2 linked regions of the Homo sapiens genome follow. The protein of the gene in region 1 interacts with the protein of each later gene in a biochemical or structural test. Each region holds a gene or a part of one and is shown in the gene's direction. Other genes may lie near its edges.

What was found. Proteins that work in one complex are often made in the same cells at the same time.
Region 2: the proteins of PABPC1 (region 1) and UNK interact in a test that uses a peptide from one of them, tested with the Homo sapiens proteins (one large-scale study listed by BioGRID and IntAct).

The regions. Positions count from the first base shown.
Region 1 is NC_000008.11:100,705,089-100,708,588, reverse strand, and holds part of PABPC1 (polyadenylate-binding protein 1), read left to right. Parts: intron 1-1,591; coding exon 1,592-1,702; intron 1,703-1,783; coding exon 1,784-1,938; intron 1,939-2,915; coding exon 2,916-3,000; intron 3,001-3,500. UniProt on the Homo sapiens protein: Binds the poly(A) tail of mRNA, including that of its own transcript, and regulates processes of mRNA metabolism such as pre-mRNA splicing and mRNA stability.
Region 2 is NC_000017.11:75,791,306-75,794,805, forward strand, and holds part of UNK (RING finger protein unkempt homolog), read left to right. Parts: exon of another isoform or gene 1-1,171; coding exon of another isoform or gene 1,172-1,173; intron 1,174-2,137; exon of another isoform or gene 2,138-3,500. UniProt on the Homo sapiens protein: Sequence-specific RNA-binding protein which plays an important role in the establishment and maintenance of the early morphology of cortical neurons during embryonic development.

The DNA.
Region 1 (3,500 bases):
CATATTTTGTCAGGCCACAGTTTTAAAGGTCTCGTTCCATTTAATCATGTATGAGAATCAGAGTCGTGGTATTTTATGTCTTGTCCTGTGGAACAGTATGTTATATTCCAAGAGCACTTAGAGTTTATTTTTTTAGACAGAGTCTCACTCTTTCTTCTAGTCTGGAGTGCAGTGGCATGGTCTTGGCTTACTGCAGCTTTCACCTCCCGGGTTCAGGTGATCCTCCTGCCTCAGCCTCCCAAGTAGCTGGGACTACAGGCACACGCCACCACGCCCAGCTAATTTTTTAAATTTTTTGTAGAGACGGGATTTTGCCCTGTTGGCCAGGCTGGGAGCACTTAGAATTTTATCATGATTATGTTTCAGGTATATTTATAAGTGTGGGCGGCAAACCACCCAGGTGCCAAGGCAAGAGACCGAGGACACGAGCTGTTCCAATATAATAAAATATAAAATAAGAATAGTTATACCAGATATAGATCTTAGATATGATTATATATGAATATCATTAATCATTAGTTTGTAGCAATTACTCTTTATTCCAATATCATAATAATCCTCACTCTATAATCATAACCTAGGAAAAACCAGGCCATACAGAGATAGGAGCTGAGGGGACATAGTGAGAAGTGACCAGAAGACAAGAGTGCGAGCCTTCTGTTATGCCCAGACAGGGCCACCAAAGGGCTCCTTGGTCTAGTGGTAACGCCAGCGTCTGGGAAGACGCCCGTTGCCAGGCGGACCGAGGTCTAGCAGTAGCGTAAGTGTCAAAGGAAAACACCCACTATTTAGCAGACCGGGAAAGGGAGTCTGCTTTTCCCCTGGGGAGTTTAGAGAAGACTGCTCCTCCACCTCTTGTGGAGGGCCTGACATCAGTCAGGCTTGCCTGCAATTATCCAGAGGCCTAACCGTCTCCCTATGGTGCTGTGCTTCAGTGGTCACGCTCCTAGTCTGCCTTCATGTTCCATCCTGTACACCTGGCTCTGCCTTCTAGATAGCAGTAGTAAATTAGTGAAAGTACTAAAAGTCTCTAATATGCAGAAACAATGGCGTAAGCTGTCTTTCTCTCTGTCTCCTCTCCCTCTCTGCCTCGGCTGCCAGGCGGGGAAGGGCCCCCTCTCCAGTGGACACGTAACCCACGTGACCTTACCTATCATTGGAGATGACTCACACTCTTTACCCTGCCCCTTGTGTTTTGTTTCCAATAAATAACAGTGCAGCCAGACATTCAGGGCCACTACTGGTCTCCGCGTCTTGGTGGTAGTGGTCCCCCGTGCCCAGCTGTCTTTTTTTTTTAAATCTCTGTGTCTCGTGTCTTTATTTCTGCACTCTCTCGTCGCTGCATACAGGGAGAAGCCCACCGACCCTGTGGGGCTGGTCGCTACATATAAGTACTCGTCCTTGTATGAATTAATGTTTTTACTTATTGATGCTCTGAGTCTGGGAAAATGGCAAGTGTTAAGACTCAGCTTTAAAAAGTTTTGTCACTTTTTAGTCTTTTATGCAAACCTCAGATCGAAGAAGACAGCATAAACACTTTTCACTCAGTAAGTTTTCCCAGTTAATGTATATTCACATCTTTAAAATGCAGCATTCCAAAATATGCCCGGTGCTATCCGCCCAGCTGCTCCTAGACCACCATTTAGTACTATGAGACCAGCTTCTTCACAGGTTCCACGAGTCATGTCAACACAGCGTGTTGGTGAGTCTTAATCCTTCCTTTAAAAATTGATCACCAATTTGAAAGAGCAAGATAAAAATACAAAATGTTCTTATTTTTTAGCTAACACATCAACACAGACAATGGGTCCACGTCCTGCAGCTGCAGCCGCTGCAGCTACTCCTGCTGTCCGCACCGTTCCACAGTATAAATATGCTGCAGGAGTTCGCAATCCTCAGCAACATCTTAATGCACAGCCACAAGTTACAATGCAACAGGTATGGATTTAATGATTTCTTAATAAAAATCACATTTCTTGGGTGAAATCAAAGGTGTGAAGACAGCTGGGCACAGTGGCTCACACCTATAACCCCAGCACTTTGGGAGGTTGAGGCAGGCAGATTGCTTGAGACCAGGAGTTTGGGACCAGCCTGGGCAACATACAGGACCCTGTCTCCACAAAGAAAACTAGCTGGGTGTGGTGGCATAAGCCTGTAGTCCTAGCTGCTAGGAAGGCTGAGGCAGGAGGATTGCTCGAGCCCAGGAGTTTAAGGCTGCAGCAAGCTGTAATCCCTGCTGGGTGACAGCAAGACTCTGTCTCAAAAGAAAAAATGTGAAGACAGCTGCATGATAGATTCTTGAGAGCTTAGCCTATCTGGAACATTCTGCTAATATGATAGTATGTAAAATGTCTTACGCTTTTGGAATTGGACAAGCAGCGAGAAATTCACATCCTAAATCACCACGCCTGGTCTGAAACAACTATTACAAGTAGCTATGGGCCAGGCGTGGTGGCTCACACCTCTATGTAATCCCAGCACTTCAGGAGGCCAAGGCAGGTGGATCACTTGAGGTCAGGAGTTTGAGACCAGCCTGGTCAACAGGGTGAAACCCCAGCTCTAAAAATATAAAGATTAGCCAGGCTTGGTGGCACATGCCTGTAATCCCAGCTACTGGGGAGGCTGAGGCAGGAAAGTTGCTTGAATCCGGAGGCGGAGGTTGCAGCGAGCCAAGATTGTGCCGTTGCATTCCAGCCTGGGCGACAAAGTGAGACTCCATCTCAAAAAGAAAAAAAATGTATCTGTGATACATAGTATATAATAACTACTTTGGCTTCTTTCTAATTCGCTCACTCAACTTCTCCACCTCATGTTTCGATGGAAGTCTACCACTTCAGCAGATGTCCATTGATGACTATTTGTATTTGCCATCTTTTTCTGTGCTTTAAACTTAAGAGTTCTCATTTTCTGTCTAGCCTGCTGTTCATGTACAAGGTCAGGAACCTTTGACTGCTTCCATGTTGGCATCTGCCCCTCCTCAAGAGCAAAAGCAAATGTTGGGTGAGTACTTCTGTCCCACCTTGTCAGTTCAGAAAGACTAGAAAATATAGGAATCACTTAGGCACTAGGTCAATCAATTGACAGCTAGGGCAGTGGAATTGATCTGAATTGGCATGAATGATTATGATAGTACAGTTGGTCTGCCTAATTAAAACCACTGGAAAGCCAATAAGAAAATGTATTGTTAGTAATAAATAGGGTAGTAGGGCATTACTCACCATGGGCCCTCACTACATTTTTGAGAGAAGGAATTTGAAGCAAATGAGAAGAAAACTTGTGACTTTGCCTGAACACCGATTTAACAACCTAATGGTAACATTGCTTAATTGGCAAGCTGATAATATCAAGAGTTAATTGCCTTGTGGCAGATTTTATTCTGTCTTCCCATGAAGACATAATGAAATTGTGGATTATGGGTTATTATATACGTGAGACAGAAGTATGGTTCTTAAACCCCAGTTTAATGTGGTAATTCAATGCAGTTAAAAACTTTTTTTTAT
Region 2 (3,500 bases), on another chromosome or scaffold:
TTTCAGGCAGTTTTGTCAGTTTATGTATTACGTAAATGTCATTAACTTCACTTGATTGCATCTGATTGTATTTTGGAAAATCCTGGACATGAACATGTATTTAAGTCATTATTGCAAATTACAATAAAATCGTGCATGCATTAGTAGAGTACTACTTGTTGCACAACAGAAGTCATTGGAAGCGTTGCTGAGCAACCTCAGTGAGAACGAGCTACATTACCAATAAACATTTCTGGATCTTATTTACTTGTTTATCAAGTAGAACTAATTTCTTGCAGGACAGAAATTAGGAGCTCATTGTAGCCTTCATTTAATCCCACAAAATCCCCGTTAAGTGTTAAGTGCCCTTGCTAAGGGTAGATTCTTAAACTTAACACCTAGTTGATATTTGCTATTATCTAAATTATTAAAGTCAAGATTTGCTTAATGGTTAAGTTTTTTTGTTTTAATCCAGCTATGTTAGATACTAAAGAAGGCTTCCCCACAACCCATATGCATCTGCTTTGACTGGTGGTTTCTATCATCCTACAAAGACTGTGACTTATTGGTGAGGGCAGCTGGACAACTCTGAGAGCAACTTAGAGAAATCCATCTTGGGCACACTCTATAAAGGAGCTCCTTCTCTGCAAATAGCACCCCAGATAAGTGCACAAAAGCAAGATACCCTCGTGGACCTACACGTCCTCCCGCTTTTCAACACCCTGATGCCTGAAGGTGAGGTCTCTTTCCTGTGTGTCTTAGAAGCCATGAGCACGCTTAGGTAACTAGAGCCCTGCCACAGCCTGAGCAGCACAGCACACATCTGCAGGCTTTCCTGCCAGACCTTTACCTAAAGGTAATTTTTCTCATTAGGAGAGACTCCAGGTCAAGAGTGATGACAGTAAGGTTGCATTTAAAGCTGCATTACATTAAATAGTGGACTGGTCTAGTGATTATTTTCCCACACTGGGCAATATTTGCTTAATGATTAAGTTTTTTTGTTTTTGTTTTTGTTTTTTTTAATCCAGCTATGGTTGATACTAAAGGAGGTTTTCCCACTATCCGTATGCATCTTCTCTGTTTTGAGATTGCAACTATGGACAGTTATGGCTAATCCTAGTAGATTGTCTTCCCTTTTAACATCTTGGATGAATTTGGGTCACACTAATTGTTATGTGAAGATGGATGTTGAATGTAAGTTTCTCTGCCATTCTTAGCCAATATATAAAAATTACATTAGCCTAATTGCTAACAATGCCAAGAATTTAGGTTTACTATCCCTCTGGACAATGTAGCTTCTTGTTTTCTTACCATATAGATAACTCTATAGATTCACCCCAGCCAGTCATCTTAAAATACCTGCATAGGCAGCAGAGGTATCTGTGGAGAAAGTGCATGGGATAATAGGTACAGGGTGATTTTGGGAGTGATGGAAATATTCTGGAATTAGATATGGTGAAGGTTACATAATGTGGGTGAATACACTAAAAACCACTGAAATGTACAAGTGGTGAGTTTGAGTGCTCTCTGAATTATATCTCAAATTGTTAAAAAGTTAATTAAAAAATCAGTGTATATGAGTCCCTCTTACCATAGAGAGGGCTTCAAGCGCATGGCCTATTGCCAAGGCTCAGCAACAGTGGTTCAGTGTGGGAAAGCCTGTGGTTTGCGCAAAGCTCCTTGGTGCCCTTTTCCCAGCTTTCTCAGTGGCTTAGGCCCTGTGTATCTATTCTAGTTGAATGCCGCCATGTTATAAGTCTGTGGAGATGTTTTGAGATAAGAAATACGTATTCAGAAAACAAGTTTGAGACTCTTAGGTGCTGGTAATTATACTTTACCTTGTCTCCAACTTGATAGCCATTCCAGGGAACAAGCAGATTTTTAGCAATGCCTTCATAAGATGAATCATGTCTACTTCCTGGGGTGGGTGGGAGGTGGAAGAGAAGTTTGCTGTCCTGCTAAAATGTAATAGAGTCCATTCTTCAGGTATCGTGAGTGTTTTAAGGTTTACATGGGCATTTCTTTAAGGACAGGCCATGTGTTTTAGGCATTTAAAATGATATCAATGGCTATACTATATTAGTTCAAGTAATCACAACAAACTTTTTATTATTTCTCTATAAAATCCCTCAACTTTCACCCCTTTTTTCTTTGCCAGTGTGTAGAATTTGACAGCAGTATCAAGAGCTGAGGAGAAGGAGAAGATGGAAAGGAGTCTAGCAACTTAAAAATCTCACAGCATTCTCTGTGAGGTGACCTTTTTTCCTGTTGGTGGCTCAATTTCTTTAGGACATAAAGAAGATACTGAGGCCTGTGACAGCCTGTGACAGTATCATCAAGTCGTATCTGAACTTATTGAACTGTTTCCTCCCCTTCCTTATTCTTTATTCACAGTTTGCTTTTCATGTGCATAAGTTGACTCATTTGTTTCCTGTTAGCATTTGAAACACCATATAGCCACCATAAGTCCTGACAAAATGACTTTTAATAAGGAGGGGGAAGGTCCATGTCCCACCTTCCTATGAAATTTTGGCCTATTCACAAGTCTACCCCCACATAAGAGAAGTAGTTATGTTCTGTAAAGAAGAGGTTGATAAAAACCTTTAGCATGGTGTTTTGTGACTTAGAAGTTTTAAGTAGTCGTTCTTATATCTAAGCATTTATTAATTTTGGTAAGAACATTACTATACGTTTCTGATGTCACTTTTACTGTTAAGAGGTGCCAGGCATCTGGTGACCTGTCACTTCAGGATTTGTGTGAATCAGACCATCTAAATATAATATAAATTAGAGACTGGTACTTGTATTTCCTGATTAAAAACAAAGTAACGTCTGTTTTACTATTGAAGTAAGAGTACTTTATAATGAATACAAAAATGTATATTAAATATCCAGTAGAGCATGCTAAAGTGAACATTTCTGTTTTTATTTCAGCAACTTATTTTATGGTATTGTAGTTATGGCCTGTCCGAAACTCTCTGACATATTCTAAACAGCTTTCAGAGAGTCACTGAGGCTTATTTGCTACTACTGTTGTTTTTCCTTTAGCTCAGTTAAGAAATGTTTAGTTAGCCGGGCATGGTGGCTCACGCCTGTAATCCCAGCATTTTGGGAGGCTGAGGCGGGTGGATTGCCTGAGGTCAGGAGCTCGAGACCAGCCTGGCCAACATAGTGAAACCCCGTCTCTACTAAAAATACAAAAAACTAGCTGGGTGTGGTGGCGGGCACCTGTAATCCCAGCTACTAGGGAGGCTGAGGCAGGAGAATCACTAGGACCCAGGAGGCGCAGGTTGCGGTGAGCCGAGATCACGCCATTGCACTCCAACCTGGGCAACAAGAGTGAAACTCCGTCTCAAAAAAAAAAAAAAATGCTTAGTTAATAGTCAGCATGGTAGTTAAGAGTACTGACTCCAGGGTCACACCACCTGGGTTTGAGGCCCAGCTCTGTCAGTTACTAGCTGTGAGATCTTGGGCAAGTGACTTACCTCTTTGTGTATCAGTTTCCTGAGAATAGGAATATT